Regions from separate parts of the Homo sapiens genome. Here all the other regions are reported to be linked to region 4. Evidence: microRNA targets listed by miRTarBase, many of them from high-throughput screens and not tested one by one. Region 4 holds a microRNA gene; each other region holds the end of a gene's coding sequence.
The links. The annotated mature microRNA hsa-miR-3929 reads GAGGCUGAUGUGAGUAGACCACU and lies in region 4 at 2,876-2,898, shown strand. An mRNA with a match to its seed (bases 2 to 7 or 8) in the 3' UTR can be bound and repressed. Matches are read on the target gene's strand: a 7mer-m8 pairs with bases 2 to 8, a 7mer-A1 pairs with bases 2 to 7 and ends in A, and an 8mer does both.

Region 1 (4,061 bases), not on the chromosome of region 4:
TGAGTTTGACTCCCTGCCCTGTCTGTCCAGCTCCCTGGAGCTGAAATGGGGGTGGTGGGACTGAATCAGGGCTTGGAAAGGTGTAGTGGGGGGTGGAAGAGGGAGAACAGGAGCCCAGGGCCAGCCTGAGGCCTCCTGAGGGCACGAGGCCTACCCCCTACACTGCCATGTTCTGCCCTGTCCTCACAGGGAGCTCAGCCCGCTGGACTTATAATGCCACCTTCTGTCTCCTACGACTCCATGAGCAGCGCCAGCCCAGCTCTCCCCTCTGCACCCTTGGCTCTGGCCAAAGCTTGCTCCCTGCTCCCACACAGGCTCAATAAAGCAAGTCAAAGCCACAGCCTGTCCTGTGTCTCTGTGGACCCCTGGTGGGGGCAGCAGGAAGTGCCAAATGCATGGGAGAGAAAGGGGAGGGCAGGGCAGGGCAGAGGAAAAGGGGATCATCCAGAACGTTGGCGGGGGTCATCAGAGTCACTCAACTCATCCTCTCCCCTTCGCAGAGGGAAAAGTGGTGGCCAGAGGAAGGCAGGGACTCCTCTGAGCAGATGGTCCTTCAGCAAGTCTGTGAAGTGGCAGTCTTGAATCTTCCCAGTTCAGTACCCATAGACCTTCCCGACACAGCCTGATGACAACCCTTCCCCAAGTGCACCCCTCACCAGTGCCTTACTGCAGCCTAGGCAGCAGAAGCACCAAAATTTATACGAAAGCACCCTTGGCATGGGGGCAGGGGCACAGCCCAGCCTGGAAGAACGATTCTGGTGCTATGGCAGTCATGGCTGCATCCAGGGGCCTGAGCTGCCGTCCAGAAATTTGGAGAGAATGGGCTGCCCTGAGAGGTAGTGAAGTCCTGGGCACAGGAGGTATTCAAGCTGCTGTGGAAGGGGAGGAGGCTAGATTAGCTGAGAGTTCCAGCCACCATGAGTTGAATCTGTAGATTGTACACTCCAGCCCTGGGAGGACAAGGACCTGGATCCTGCCCCAGGGAGGACTTCCCAGATTCCCAGAGAACCCATCTTTTCCTGGCCCTTCTCAGGCACCCTGAATAGGTGGGGACAGTGCGCGTGTGCATGCGTGTGTACGCGCATGTGTAAAGGGGAGAAGTGAGGGAACTAGAATGTTTCTGGTTCCTAGAAAGGCTTCTCCTGCCTCCCCCACATGCTTGGTCTCAAGGGATGGGGTTATGGGTTTGGAGGATGAGGGGTCCACTTTCCTGGGCTCAGCACCTTGCACAGAAATGGAAATGACACACAATTGTGTTTCCCCTCAAGTCCTACTCCATCTGGTGTGTGCAAATGACCTGGAAGTAGAAACAGGTCCTAAAAGGCAAAGAGCTTCTAGAGGATGCAGCTGCTTGGCTCAGATTGATTTTTTGTTTGTTTTTGGAGACAGGATCTTGCTCTGTCACCCAGGCTGGAGTACAGTGGCATGATCACAGCTCACCATAGCTTTGACCTCCTGGGCTCAAGCGATCCTCCTGCCTCAGCCTCCCAAACAGCTGGAACTACAGGCACATGCCACCACACCCAGCAAATTTTTTTATTTTTTAGAGACAGGGTCTTGCTATGTTGCCCAGCATGGTCTTAAACTCCTGGGCTCCAGCGATCTGCTCACCTCGGCCTCCCAAAATGCTGGGATTACAGGTGTGAGCCACTGTGCCCAGCCTCAGGTTGATTCTTAAATCCAAAGATGTCTGGATAGAGAGATGGTTTCGCAAAAGAACGGTTTGAGTCTGGGAGAGGGAGCCTGAAGTCCCAGCATTTTCTCTGGCAGCTTAAGGGGATGCGCGGTGAATGGGGAGAGGAGTCTGGGCTGTTTGGTAGAAACTTGAGCCAGGTGGGAGTTGGGGTGTGTCTAGCTGAAGCCCCTTCTTTGAGGTTTCTTCTCTCACCTCTGCTCTCCCTCTGGGTTAGAGCCCCCCACACTGGTGCTGTCTGTGCAGGACTACAGGGGCAATAAGTGTCTTCTCCAGGACCCGTATCTGTGTCTCTACCACGGGGTGGAGGGCCAGACCCACAAGGCCATGTGTGGGTGGAGTGGGGGAAGGTGGATGGGTTGCCAGGGGAGGCAGGGGAGGACCCCCAACAGCTGAGGTCTTTTTCTCTCACAGCAGAAACTACAGGGTCCCACTTCCCGTTCCATGGACTGGTCCCTCCCTGCCCGCAGGCCCACAGAAGTCACTGAAGCAACAAAAATTTGTCTTTATTGTTTTCACTGAGGGGATGAGGAGGGGTCGAGGCCCCTCTCAATACAAAGGGGTTGGTGGGCAGAGAGGCGTCTGGAGGCCAAGGCCCAGCCTGGAGAAAGAAGCCCCCCCCACAGGGGTGCTGTGTCTCCCCGCATGCCCGCCCCCAGGAACTTCCTCTCGCTAGCACCCAAGCTGCCCCCAGCCCCGAGGCCCCTGGCTCGGTGCCCAGCATCCAGGCTGTCCTACCTGGGGCCCCGGGAGGAGGTCGGTGGTCGGGGTTCCGAGGTGTTCAGCCACTGGGGGTTCGTGGTGGTCCATGGTGGGGGTTTCGTGGCTTTTGATGGGGAGGTGTCCGTGGCGTTCGCAGTTTTCTTGTGGTTTTTAGATTTCTTCGGGCTGGGAACAAGTCTTTGCAGTCATGAGGCCGCTCCCCGAGCCCAGCTCAGGCCGCGATGTGCGTGGGGGTGCCTGGTGGCGTCCGTGTCCCCCCCCCGCGCCCCCCCCACCCCCCGCTTTCCTCCCTCCCTCCCTCCCTTCCTCACACCCTCCGCCGGCCCACCTGCTGTTGAAGAGCTTCCCCAAGTACTTCTTGATGGAGCCTAAGTTCAGCCAACTGGCGGCCCTGGGCTGCGGCACTTGCAGCTCCTCGCCGAGGGCGCCCTCGGGCTGCATCAGCAGCGACACGAGGCCCGCTATGGCCAGAGCGAATGCGCAGCGCAGAGCAGGCGTCTGGAGGGGGCGGGGCAGACAGAGCCGCGGGAGGTCACGTGATGCCGGGGCTGTGGTCAGCGCGGCACCCGGACCGGAGCTTGCAGGTGTTCCGCGCGGTGGGCAGGCTGGGGTGCAGGGGCGCTCAGACCGAGGGTCGTGTCTATTTCTGGGACACACACCAGAGCACGGACGCCTTAAGGGACATCCTGGTGCTCGGAGGAATGGTACACACCTGGACATGCCCGGTGATGCAGGCAGAGCATCGAGGCGCGGTGGCTCACGCCTGTAATCCCAGCACTTTGGGAAGCCGAGGCGGGCGGATAACCTGAGGTCAGGCGTTCAAGATCAGCCTGGCCAACATGGCGAAACCCCGTCTCTACTAAAAATACAAAAATTAGCCGGGCGTGGTGGTGGGCGCCTGTAATCCCAGCTACTCTGGGGGCTGAGGCAGGATAATTGCTGGAACCCGGGAGGTGGAGGTTTTAGTGAGCCGAGATTGCGCCACTGTACTCCACCCTGCCCAACAGAGCCAGACTTCGTCTCAAAAAAAGAAAAAAAAAAAAAAGAAAAAGAAAAAAAAAAAAAAAAAAACGAACGAGGAGACACACCCTAAGGTGGACGCATGAGGACGGCATAAAGCCATTGGTCAGCTCCCTAACCTCACTGCCCTCTCTCCCGCAAACTCCTTGCTTATCCCCCTCCTTTCTCCCTGCTGTTCCCGCAAAATGACGGTCACTCTGTTCTCTGCCTGGAAGACTCTTCCTCCAGACATCCTCATGGCCAGCTCTGTCTCCCCTTGTAAGCATTAGCTCAAAATCCACCTTTTAAATGGATCCTACCCTGACACCCCTATTTATAATTGCAACCTGGCCGGGCGCGGTGGCTCACGCCTGTAATCCCAGCACTTTGGGAGGCCGAGGTGGGAGGACTGCTTGAGCCCATGAGTTCAAGACTAGCTTGGGCAAAAGACAGAGAGCCCCGTCTCTACGATTTAAAAAAATAAATAAATAAAATAATATTGCAACCAAACCCCTCATCTTGCTCTTTTTCTTGCTCTATTTTTGCCCTATTTTTTCTTTTCTTTCTTTTTATTTTATTTTATTGTTTTAAGGCAAGGCCTTCTTTTGCCTTCCAGGCTGGAATGTAGTGTCGGGATCATAGCTCA
Region 2 (4,061 bases), not on the chromosome of region 4:
GGTGTTTTTGTATCTCTTTTTAACCACCAAGCAAATTTCTAGGCTGCTAGAATCAGCCTGTCAGTGGCAGAAGTTATGGTTAGAAATCCTCTCCTGTTCATTTTATAGATGGGAAAACTTAAGGAGCCATGAGGGGGTTCTGCAACTCACCAGTCACACAGTCAGTTAATGGCCAAGGAAAGAACCCATTCTCCCAAATGCCAACCCAGTACTCTCCACAGAATTAAGCTATATTAGCATCGTAAGCTAACAACTCTTTTCCTACATCCCTACTGTAAGCCCCAGTAAAATGAAGCTAAAGTATCTTTTCCCCCTCCTGATTATTGGGAAATCTGCATTACCTAAATGCCAGATGCCTTGGGATTTCAAAATAGAATTATCTTACTGAAGAGAGGGCTGGTTAATAGAATGGAATAATAAATGACTACTGCTGTGGCTTAGATTTTTAAGAGAGTCCTATTGCAGTCTGTCTACCATGACAATGACCTGCTTTGGTTTCCCTAAGAACACCCAAGAGGAGCAATGACAAAAGTACACATTTTTATTAATAGCTGAATTTTAAACAGCCAATGTGTGGAGGTTATTTACTAACCAACAGGAAACACCTGCAGCAGGCTGCATACTTATAGAGCAGCAAACTTAAGGGAAGTCTGTAAGGCTTTACTGTCTTCCTTTTCAAGTCTCTTCACTGCTATGCACAGTTGAGGGCATAACCTTAAAAGTCTGTAACATAACAAAAACATTTTAAACATCAAACATCGTGCTTTCCCCACTGTGGCACATTTTTAGAGTAAAGCATTTGGCCAACTGGATGTTACAGCATGATGCCCACTACATTATGTTTAAGCTTCCATTCCAGTTCTGAACCCACCAGACCCTTGGAGCAGCTGGAATTACCAAATCAACAGGGTATCAGTGTAACTCAATCCTACATGGAGCAAACAGACAAAGCAGTTAGTTCCTCAAACACCCAATTTACTTGACAGAATCAAAGACCAACTTTATAAGTTTAGAAGTTTTTAAAAGCAGATACACATTTAGAATTAAGCTAAATGTATATCCTCCGTGTTCCCCCATCCTCACCCTCAACTCTCACACACTCACCCCCTTGGTAGGAGAATGGTGAGAAGTGGATGAAACTTGATGCTTGACTACATGGCTCCAGTAATGCAGTGAAAAGACAAAAACACATCAACGTGACGTTCCAGGGAAATAAACGCGAAATCATGCATCCAACTGGCCACTAAGGGTTGGCTGTACAGAATTGTAGTATGCGTATGGAGAAAATGCTAACTGAACCTTTCTAAACAAATAAAAATATACACAATTATTTTTCCAATAGCTCAAGTATTGACTTATTTTATGGGCAGATGATACCAAACTAGCAAAAAGCTTTATGCTAAAAATGTGCCTTTGTGGGAAAACCAGCATGTTCGGTACTTAAAATATTTCCATTCTGAACTGAAGTCAGTGAATAGGCATGTCTTGCAACTTCATTTGCTTAGCAGGGTCTTGGTTTGATTTGTAAAAACTGGGACATAAAATGTTTTACTAGCACTTGCCACTTAAAGTCCTAAATTTGGTGTATTGTGACCGTTGACAAGTAGTAGCATTTCCCCCGCCCCCAAAAAATCACAATATCAATTCTGTGGATATTTTAAAAGTTTATTTCTATTTTAACTAGCCCACAGACCCCATTCTTTGAGGGCTGATCTGATTTCTGACAAATGGTCTATAGACCCTCCTCTCGGAAACTTCCAAAAAAGTCTGCACCTTCCATCATGATGCACATTTTAAGTTAAAATTGCCAATACAACCCTTAAAATGCAAGTTTATTGAATAAAGCTGAGAAGAGCAGTAAACAGACAAAAAATGCATCCACCTAAATAAAAAAATTCACATATTTACATAGTTCAGTAACTGTTAAAAGTTTTCACATGCAGAGGTTAATGCACAGGAAAATGTTGGTAATAGCGTCTGGATGTCTTGAAATGCGGAAAGCAATGTATAGACACACAAACACATTAAGGTTTAGCTATAGGTCAATTAACAAACCTATGCAGTCCCCACAGAGTCACACATTCTAGTTCCAATTCCTCCTTTTAGGCACAAGCAAGTTGCCACATTCTTTGTAATGGTTCACACTGACCATTAATGGTGTTGAACAACAGTAGCAAGTTTAAATATCCCTTCATTTACAGAACCATCCATCCCACCAGGGTAGTATGCAACATGCTTCAAAGAATAAGAAGAGAAATTTAAAAGCCCAGATTCTACTCATAAAAATATGAATGGAGAAAAGCAAGTAGTGTCTGTGCAACACAGTGCAGTATATTGTACAGAATATTTTTAAGGCCATGGCAGTCTATAAATTAAAACTGATATTCATTAAAAGAACTTACTGTTGACTACACTCTGAGTGCTCAACACATTTGGAAATGCAGTCTACATAAGTGCTGCTTAACAAAAGAAACAAAATCACACACAGTGTGAGGCAACACATAAGCAGGTGTACCATAGAGTTTTATCTACTACAGTGGTCTATATGAATAATAATTTACAAATGAACCAGTATTAATATGTCCCTTTATGTATACGGAAGTCGCTAAACTACAAAACATGTCCATTTGAAGTTTTTAGACATCTCTGTATCATAGAAGCAAACAAACAGCATCAGTTCCTCAGTTCTCTGTGTGACTGATTATTAAACAACCTGTAGACATTGAGCATGATTACATTAGATAAAGCAGGCAGGTCTAGAGTTGTCACAATAATCAAGATGTCTAATGGCACCAGTCAAAAGAGTGCCAAAGCTTACATCAGTAAGAGAGAAAAATAAAAATTTTTTATTTGTTTATAAGTATCTTTTGTGCTGAAAGTCAACTTTATGACTGGATATAAAAAGTCAGGAGTTAAGAGTGTCATGCAGCAGCACTGATTTAATGACTGGAGATAGAACAAACAGATGTTTGAACAAAGACTGACATTCTTAACAGGTTTTATTATATTGGGTGGAATGCTCTAAATTCATGAACGCTTTTGGAAAATCTTCAATTCTCAACCCCTTAAAAAAGTATCCTGAACCAGGAAGAAAAAACAAGAGACAGAAATAATGATCTGGACAGATACAAAACAGGATGCTTTAGTTCCTCCCATATCCCAACTGCCATCTGGTGATAGAGTTCTCAGAAAGCAGGATATCTTTAATATTCATCAGGCAGAATCTCACCAGTGCAAAGAACCAACATTGATCTGGTGCCTCCGCTCACTCTCTGCAGACCATTTTGGATTCCTAAGATGTAATTATACATTTCACATGCATTTGTGAGATAAAATAAACATTATGTTTACATATATCCCACATGAGTCATTCACGCCTAAAGGTTTTCTAAATACTGTGTGTGGCACTAGAAACTTCATGCTGTATCAAGTCAGTGTCAGTATTAAGCTACTGGACTCTATAATGAAATATTATAGATAGACATTTACTGAAAACCAATATAAAAATCTGGCCCAGAAAGACCAGAATGGAAATATGCAATTTTCTTGATTTAAGATGGTCATAAGTATATGGGGTTTTTTTTCTGTTTTTAAAGCTCTACACATGGTTTAAGACAGGTATGTGTAAGAAGCCTTTTTGTGTGTGCTGACTTTATCATGACAACTCTAGCTGATTCTTTATGAAGGATTAGGGATATTCATCTTCAGCAGTGCACATGAGAAATAAACTCTGAAAAAGGCAATTTCTGGGGTTTAGGAAGGACCGTATTCTGGGAATTACTTCAGAGGAACGGACAATAATTCTAGGATTATAGCCAAGAAGGACTGGAAGACTTCAGGAGATGCTTCAGCTTCTTCTAGATTTTGAATGCTGAATAAGCCACTGAAGTGTGATATCTAAAGATAGAGGGGAAAAGTGAAGACATTAAAGTTAAAAAACTAAACATCAAACAGAGACAATATTTAAAAGGCAGCTAATTCAAGGCACACACTATGCCTGACCTCTGCTGCTTTTCTGCATCTGCATTACCATACTCCATTACCCGAACTTCAAGAGAATA
Region 3 (4,061 bases), not on the chromosome of region 4:
TGAAATGATTCAGAATTGCTTGGCTTCTTTGCCTGATGATTTGCCTCATTCAGAAGCAGGAATGAGAGTAAAAACTGAACCAATGGATGCTGATGATAGCAACAATTGTACTGGACAGAATGAACATCAAAGAGAAAATTCAGGTCATAGGAGAGATCAGATTATAGAGAAAGATGCTGCCTTGTGTGTCCTAATTGATGAGATGAATGAAAGACCATGAAAGATGTTTCTTTTTCTTTTTTTCCTTTTGATAATAGCATCATATATTAGTTCATTTTCTTTTGGACAGTCTTAAGAGAAGTTTCACTAAAAATGTAAACAGCTTTAATCTTGACTCCAAATTTTTCAATTATGAGATGTCATAGGCAGTAATTTCGCTGTATAACAAGCATAGACAAATGAGTGTCCCTGCACTAAGAAGAATCACTTTAAAAAGCAAAGTGTTAGCTGCTGTTGTATGGGACATTCCTATGTTTTAGAGTTGCAGTAAAACTTTGATGATAACCTCAATAATAGCAAAGTTTTCGTCTTTGAAAAGGGGATTTAGCATTTGCTTTAAGAATGATAGATAAATGGATATTAAGCTCTCTACATGTAAAACTATGAAATCTTTAGACTTATTCCATTAAAAATTTTGCTTAAGCTCCAAAAAGTAGCATAACATGTTGATAGAGAGGAGCCCAGTAGAGTTATAAAATAGAAACTTCATTTTTTCCTCATGACTGCTTCTGTAAACCCACTAGCTCAGTCTTTTCTCCCTATCCTGAATGGACTCTTGCAGGGAAGTCCCATAAATTGTTGTTTTTTTTTCCAGTCACTCAGGTAATAAGTCCTTTGGTCACTTTAAGTTACAGACATTAATTTTAGTAATTAAGATGTCTGTGTCATTAGCTATACATTTTCTTTAAAGCTAAGCTCAGACTTGTTTAAGTCCACAATGGGAAAGGGGTTTGATGGCAGAGACTGCTAGGTGTCTACCAAAGATTCTTGCTCTTTGAAGATATGTTGTCAAGATGTGGCAATCCAGCCAGGGACATTTCCCTACTCCCAGCATCTCTGTGAGAACATATGACTAAGTCGTAGGCGGTGAAATGTGGGCATAGGAATCCAGGCTTGCCCCATAAACATTTCTTGCATGATCCTCCATTCTCTTCTCCCAGCTGCTGGTTGGACGGTCGTATCCAGGATAAGTTTGGAAGCCACCGAAGATGGCAAAGATTGTCAGTCTGGTTCTTTGAATGACCGTGAGGACTAAGTCTTCCTTTCAGTAACTCCACTCTGCCCCTAGCTAATTGGACTTTATATGAGCACTTTCTTCTCTTCTTCCCCCGACTGTCCATCTGCTCTTCCACCAAGGTGTTAGTGGAGAGTTGACCTTGTGTCTGAGGATCTCTGCCTGCCGTTTTCTTAATGTAGGCCCGTGGTTCTTAAAGTGTGTGGTCCTGGACCAGCAGCATTGGTATCACTTGGGGACTTACTAGAAATAAAAGTTTTAGTATAATCCGTAGGTTCAGAAAAATAAAAAATAAATGAGGGTTCTCTGGCTCCATCCCAGACCTTTTGAACCAGAAACTTCTGGGTGTAGGTCCCAGCAAGCTGTATTTTAAGAAGCCTATGTGATTATGATACATGCTCAAGATTAAGAAACATTGAGGCTGGGTGCAGTGGCCCACTCCTGTAATCCCAGCACTTCGGGAGGCTGAGGCTGGTGGATCACCTGAAGTCAGGAGTTCGAGACCAGCCTGACCAACATGGGGAAATCCCATCTCTACTAAAATACAAAATTAGCTGGGCTTGGTGGCGCATGCCTGTAATCCCAGCTACTCGGGAGGCTGAGGCAGGGAGAATCACTTGAATCTGGGAGGCAGAGGTTGTGGTGAGCTGAGATTGCACCATTGCACTCCAGCCTAGGCAACAAGAGCGAAACTCCATCTCAAAAACAAAAAAGAACCATTGAGAGGCAATGCCTTTCCCCAGATGTCTACTTTTTTATTTCTTCCTTAGCCCCTGGTTTCTAGCATAGGGATTTGCTCACTTAAACTTTCATTGGTCCTAGAGCTAGCAAAGTTCACATTAAAATGATTATAAGGGGCCTGGCGCAGTGGCTCATGCCTGTAATCCTAGCACTTTGGGAGGCTGAGGTGGGTGGATTGCTTGAGGTCAGGAGTTTGATACCAGCCTGGCCAACATGGCAAAACCCCGTCTGTACTAAAAATACAAAAATTAGCCGGGCATAGTGGCAGGCGCCTGTAATCCCAGCTACTCGGGAGGCTGAGGCACGAGAATTCCTTGAACCCAAGGGGTGGAGGTTGCAGTGAGCCGAGATCGTGCCACTGCACTCCAGCCTGGGTGACAGCAAAACTCTGTCTAAAATATATATATATATGTGTATGTATGTATATATGTATGACTATAGGTCAGTTCTCTATGAAATGTGCATGCTGTGCTTTCACAGATCCAGGGACTGTAAGTTATCCCTAGGTAGACACTTCTTTATCAGATAGGCAGTTGGTTGGCTAGTCTCAACTTTTGTTTTTTTCTGGTACGTAATGTGTTTGGTATAGACCTTTGGGCCTCAGAGACTCCAGAGGACATAGTTCAGGCTCTCAAGCTTAAATTGAAGTAGGGAGCATCACCTTGTGAGGGAGAAAGGTGGAAATTGCTTAGCACTTGAACAACTCTCCAAAGAAAATTCTCTTTCTTTGACTCTGAGAACCTTGAGGAAGGTGTTGGGTTGAGGTGCAAAACCAGTTTTTGGCCACTTTGAAAATCTTTGCATGTAAAAAACAGAATCACATAAGAGCCACAACACTACTTATATATGAACGTGTGTGTGTTGGGGGGAGGGGCGTTGAGGGATTAAAATGCCACTGGGGGGCCAGGCACAGTGGCTTATGCCTGTAATCCCAGCACTTTGGGAGGCTGAGGTAGGAGGATGGTTTTAGGTCAGGAGTTTGAGACTAGCCTAGGCAACATAGTGAGACCGTGTCTCTACAACAAATTAGAAAAAAAAATGCCATTGGGGAGGATCTGATCTTGCAGGTCTGTGACTAGGACCTGACATAAATTCCTAAAGTGTTCTGATATGAACTCTTGCTATTAGAGTGGAATGAAAAAAAAGCTCTAGTGGCCTTATATAAGGTCTTTTTAATCTTGTGTTAAAATATATCTCTGCACACCTACTTATAATGAATATTCTTGAAAGATTGATTCATTGAAGTGAAATATCTGGAAGGATCACCTTTTTAAGCAGCTTTTGAAATGACTAATGCCCAGGTCCCACACTGCGGAGATTCTGATTTCATTTTTTGGACTGGGGTACTAGCATTGGTTTTAAGAAATCAGAAGATGATTCTCTTGTGCAGTGGTTACAGAATGTTGCATTAATCAGTGCTCTGTTACTGCTGACAAAAACCCTACTTGAACTAATTTAAGCAAAAAGATGAATTTATATAAAGGATATGGGGTATGGGCTGGGTACGGTGGCTCACACTTATAATCCTAGTGCTTTGGGAGGTTGATGTGAGAGGATCACTTGAGCTCAGGAATTTGAGACCAATGGGGGCAACATAGTGAGACCTTCTCTCTCTTACAATTTAATTAAAAAAAGAAAGGATATGGGATATGTTGATTGAAGGATAAGTTGAATATATAAACCATGAGAAGGTCAGAAAGTGGATGAAGTTTTAAGTTAGTAGCCCTGGAGACCATCTTTCCTGTTAGCTTCATTCTCTTTACAGATGAACTTCTTTAATGATGTAGGTGGAGAACATGGCAGCTGACAGTTCCTAAGGGTTAAGTATTTCTATGTTTACCACTGTCTGGGAGTTCCCTCTCAAATGCAAACTTAAAAAAAATGAGGGGAGGTTAATTAACGAGCTAGACATGAGGAATTAGGGGTTGTATACTTGATTGCAACTGGGCAAATCAACTGGGACTTGGATCCCATAAGAATTTCACAGTCCCCGCTATGTCTATTTATGGAAGAGTCAGTCTGTCTCTCAGAGGAAGGAAGCGGTGCTGAGCTAACGATAACGAGAGATCTACTACAAATCAGGCAC
Region 4 (4,067 bases):
GACTACAGCTGCTCTAGAGCTTACTTACTACTGCTAGGAAAAAGCGTCATACCTCCCAGCAAACATAGATATTTTTCTTTTTCAGATAGTAAGATACAGGTTGAGTTGAGTATCCCTTATCTGAAATGCTTGAAACCAGAAGTGTTGCAGATTTCAATATTTTTCAGATTTTGGAATATTTGCATTACATTTAGTTGTTCAGCATCCCTAAGTCAAAAAATCTAAAATTGGAAATGCTCCAATGAGCGTCTCTTTTGAGCATCATGTTGGTACTTAAAAAGTTTTGGATTTTAGAGCATTTCAGATTTCAGCTTTCCAGAGTAGGGATACTCAACCTGTAATAATTTTAACCTTGGCTGACAGAATGCTCGGAGCTAAATTGTATGTTCCAACCTAAGAGTTATACTTCACTGATGTTTTCTGATATATCCATCTTTTCCCCTGGATAATTAACTCTTATTTTATTATCCTAATATATAGGTATTTTGTTGTAAGCCATGTGAAATCCTTATAGAAGTAAGCAGTGCGTGAGTAGAAAATGATGCGTGAATTATTAGAGGTGTCATTGCCCCATGAAAATATACAACCTATGTTGGTTATATAGTCGTTCCTGAACACAACATCTTTCAAGGCCAGGATTTCTAAAACTCATTACATGAGTAGTTGGTAGTTTCCATTCTCTTTTGTTTAATATTTCAGAGGATATGTAGTATTTTAGTGAGGAGGTTTTGGGTGCAGGGTACTAAAAACCTAATCCAATGCACAGGTTTGAACATTAGATGGGATTCACTAAGTTTTTGCGACACAAATGCTTGGTGGGCTCCAGGTGTGGTTTGATCAGGGTTCTGGTTCTGTCTTAACTTCTCTTAGTTTCTCTTGCCCTGTGTGGGCTTTGTCTTCAGGCTGGCTTTCCTCGGCAGGGCAGGCCTGCCAGTTGTCTCTGATGAAGACATACTCTCTCTGCAGGAGTTCATCCCTGAACAAAATACCACAGCAAGGGGAGTGGGGGATGCCCTGATTGGGCTAGACTGGTCAGGCCCGGGCTGATGCTGGGATGCACGGGGGAGTCAACCCCACACAAAACCCAGGTGCTTCACAGTGGGGGTGGGGTGGGGTGGCAGACAGGAAGGGAGGTTTATTCTCACTCCATTGACAAGGCTGATGAAAAGAACCACTAGGAGAAGAGCTACTATAAAACTCTGCACATATAATTATTAGGGATGAACAATGCCAGGTTGTGCTTGATGGGCCTTCTAAGTCCTTTTGGAGCCCTCTCACTTTCTGGTAAGCCTTTAGACAAAATCTGCTTTGCGATGCCTCTAGAATGGGGCAGGTGGAAAGCTTCCTGCAATTACATTCCTTTTATATAATGTTTCTCCACCAGAGGTTTGCAGTTTTATAGGATTCACCTGCCAATTGGCAACTGATTTGAGACACGTTAGTGCATCAGCAGAAGTGGGGGACATGCCGAGGGAGCAGCCTGGTGCTTGGCGGAATGTATCCTCTAATCACTTTTCGCCAGAAAGACCCTTAAAGCAATTATACGCTTCTGCAAAGAGAACTGGAAAAGGGTTCTGGATACTTTCTCCTCTTAATTAACCAAAGAATATGCCAATTCTTTTTAGAAAGTAAACTTTTTTCCCTAGTAACTATATTGTCCCATATCTGGTTATAATTTGTGTCTGAAGTAAGTAATTAATAGAGGACTGCCAGAATTTATGAGAATAAGAAACCCCATGAGTTCACGCGTGCACACACACACACTCAGAGGACATTGATATAGTTTGGATACTTGTGCCCTACAAATCTCACGTTGGAATGGCAACCCCAATGTTGGAGGTGGGCCTAGTGGGAGGTGTTTGCATCACAGGGGTGGATCCCTCTTGAGTGGCCTGGTGCCATCCTTGCAGTAATGAGGGAGTTCTTGCTCTACCAATTCGCCCAAGATCTGGTTATTTAAAAGAGCCTGAGACTTCCTTCTCTCTCTTGCTCCCTCTCTCACTACGTGATATACTGGCTCCCCTTCACCTGCTGCCATGATTGGAAGCTTCTGAGGCCCTATGCTTCCTGTATAGGCTGCAGAAGCATGAGCCAAATAAACCCCTGTTCTTTATAAATTACCCAGTTTCAGGTATTCCTTTATTGCAAAGTAAACAGTCTAAGAAAACTGCTGTTTTCTTTACTTGTAATGTGCTTTTCACTGCCTAGCTAAAAGGAGACAATGGCCTCTGTAAAGCACCTTGTCATGGACAAGTGATGCTGGCATATCATTATAATTGTGACCTATGAAATCTTTGCCTATTCTCAGGTTTCAAATATTTTTCTCCTGACAGTTCTATATAGTATACCCTGCTTATCTGCTGGGGACATATTCCAAGACCCCCCAGTGGATACCTGAAACCATGGATACTAAAGAACTGTATATATACTGTGTTGTTTTCCTATATGTATTATTATAAAGTTTAATTTATAAATTATATTATATTATATATAATATTATATTATTATAAAGTTTAATTTATAAATTAGGCACAGGAAGAGATTACAGCAAATTATAATAAAACAGACAATTATAATGATATGCCAGCACCACTATTCTTGCACACTGGGGCCATTACGAACTAAAATAAGGGTTACTTGAACATCAGCACTGTGATGTCACGGCAGTTGATCTGATAACCCAGATGGCTACTAAATGACCCATAGGCAGGTAGCATCTACAGTGTAGATCCACGAGACAAAGGGATGATTCACATCCTAGGAGGGACGGGACAGATGGCCTGAGATTTCATCATGCTACTCAGAACAGCACACAATTTAAAACGTATGAGTTGGCCAGGTGCAGTGGCTCACACCAGTAATCCCAGCACTTTGGGAGGCTGATGTGAGTAGACCACTTGAGCCCGGGAGTTCAAGACCAGCCTGGGCAACATGGCGAACTCCTATCTTTACAAAAAATACAAAAATTAACCAGGCGTGGTGGTGCATGTCTATAGTCCCAGATACTCAGGGGGCTGAGGTTGGAGGATTGCTTGAGCCTGAGAGACCAAGGCTGCAGTGAGCCAAGACTGCGCCATTGCACTCCAGCCTGGGTGACAGAGTGAGATTCTGTCTCAAAAAAATTTTTTTAAAAAGGGATGAATTATTTATTTCTAAAATTTCTCTTTTAGTTTTTTGGATGTGAGTGGATGATGAGCCACATGTCCCTTTGGTTGGCTGAGGGTAACTGAAACCATGGAAAGCAAAACTGTGGTTAAAGGGGGACTACTATAATTTTAGCTGTATTATGTTTAGGTCTATCATCCATATTGAATTAATTTTGTGCATGAGTTGAGATAGGAATTGAGATTCATTTTCTTCCCCATATGGATATCTATTTTTCCAGCATCATTTCTAGAAAAGCGCTTACTTTTCCCATTGGAGCTTCGGTGGCTTTGTCAGTCATTAAGTAACCTTATAGGTGTGAGTCTAGGTCTAGGCTGCCTGTTGTGTTTTATTCATGTATTTGCATAAACTTGCTTTGTGTACATTAGCTTGGCTACTGGAGCCTCAAACTCAGGTTGTGGAAGTCCTCATATTCTGTCTTGTCAGTATTAATTTAGAGATCCTAGGACCTTAGTATTTCCATATAAATGTCAGAATCAATATGTCAGTTTCTCTGAAAACTTGACCTAATTATCAGTCAGATTGCATTGAATCTATAGATCAATCTGAGGAGACTGTATATTATAAAAGCATTGGGTTTTTCAACTTATGAACATGAAATGCCTCTCCATGTATTTAGGTCTTCTAAATTCATAGTTTTCTGCATAGAGTTATTAAATACCTTTTGTTAACCTTATTTCTAAGTATTTAATGTTCTAGATATCATTATAAATAAAATTGGTTTTTAAACTTTTTTTTTGCTGGTAGTAAATCGAAATATAATTGATTTTTTCAGATTGATCTTGTATTCTGTGACCTTGCTATTTTTACATAAATTCCTCAGGATTCTCTTTGCAAACAATGATGTCATTTATACACAAAGGGAGTTTTACTTCTTAATTTTCAATCTTTATGCCTATTAT

Region 1: the mRNA of PPY is a reported target of hsa-miR-3929. The part of its 3' UTR that is shown has no 7-base or 8-base seed match.
Region 2: the mRNA of ARL8B is a reported target of hsa-miR-3929. The part of its 3' UTR that is shown has no 7-base or 8-base seed match.
Region 3: miRTarBase lists MED7 as a target of hsa-miR-3929. The part of its 3' UTR that is shown has no 7-base or 8-base seed match.

The regions. Positions count from the first base shown.
Region 1 is chr17:43,937,081-43,941,141 of GRCh38, reverse strand. It overlaps PPY (pancreatic polypeptide), which reads left to right. Exons shown (of 4, transcript NM_002722.5): 4 at 190-338. The coding sequence ends at 214. It overlaps LINC01976 (long intergenic non-protein coding RNA 1976), which reads right to left and starts at 2,881. Exons shown (of 2, transcript NR_136406.1): 1 at 2,745-2,881; 2 at 2,180-2,581. RefSeq lists an enhancer at 2,595-3,095.
Region 2 is chr3:5,178,500-5,182,560 of GRCh38, reverse strand. ARL8B (ARF like GTPase 8B) reads right to left here. Exons shown (of 7, transcript NM_018184.3): 7 at 1,650-3,897. The coding sequence ends at 3,848. Among named protein-coding and RNA genes, the nearest start is that of EDEM1, 7.2 kb to the left of the region's middle. RefSeq lists an enhancer at 419-468.
Region 3 is chr5:157,134,889-157,138,949 of GRCh38, reverse strand. It overlaps MED7 (mediator complex subunit 7), which reads left to right. Exons shown (of 2, transcript NM_004270.5): 2 at 1-1,526. The coding sequence ends at 220. Among named protein-coding and RNA genes, the nearest start is that of MED7, 5.9 kb to the left of the region's middle.
Region 4 is chr18:35,932,919-35,936,985 of GRCh38, reverse strand. MIR3929 (microRNA 3929) reads left to right here and starts at 2,844; the gene lies at 2,844-2,898.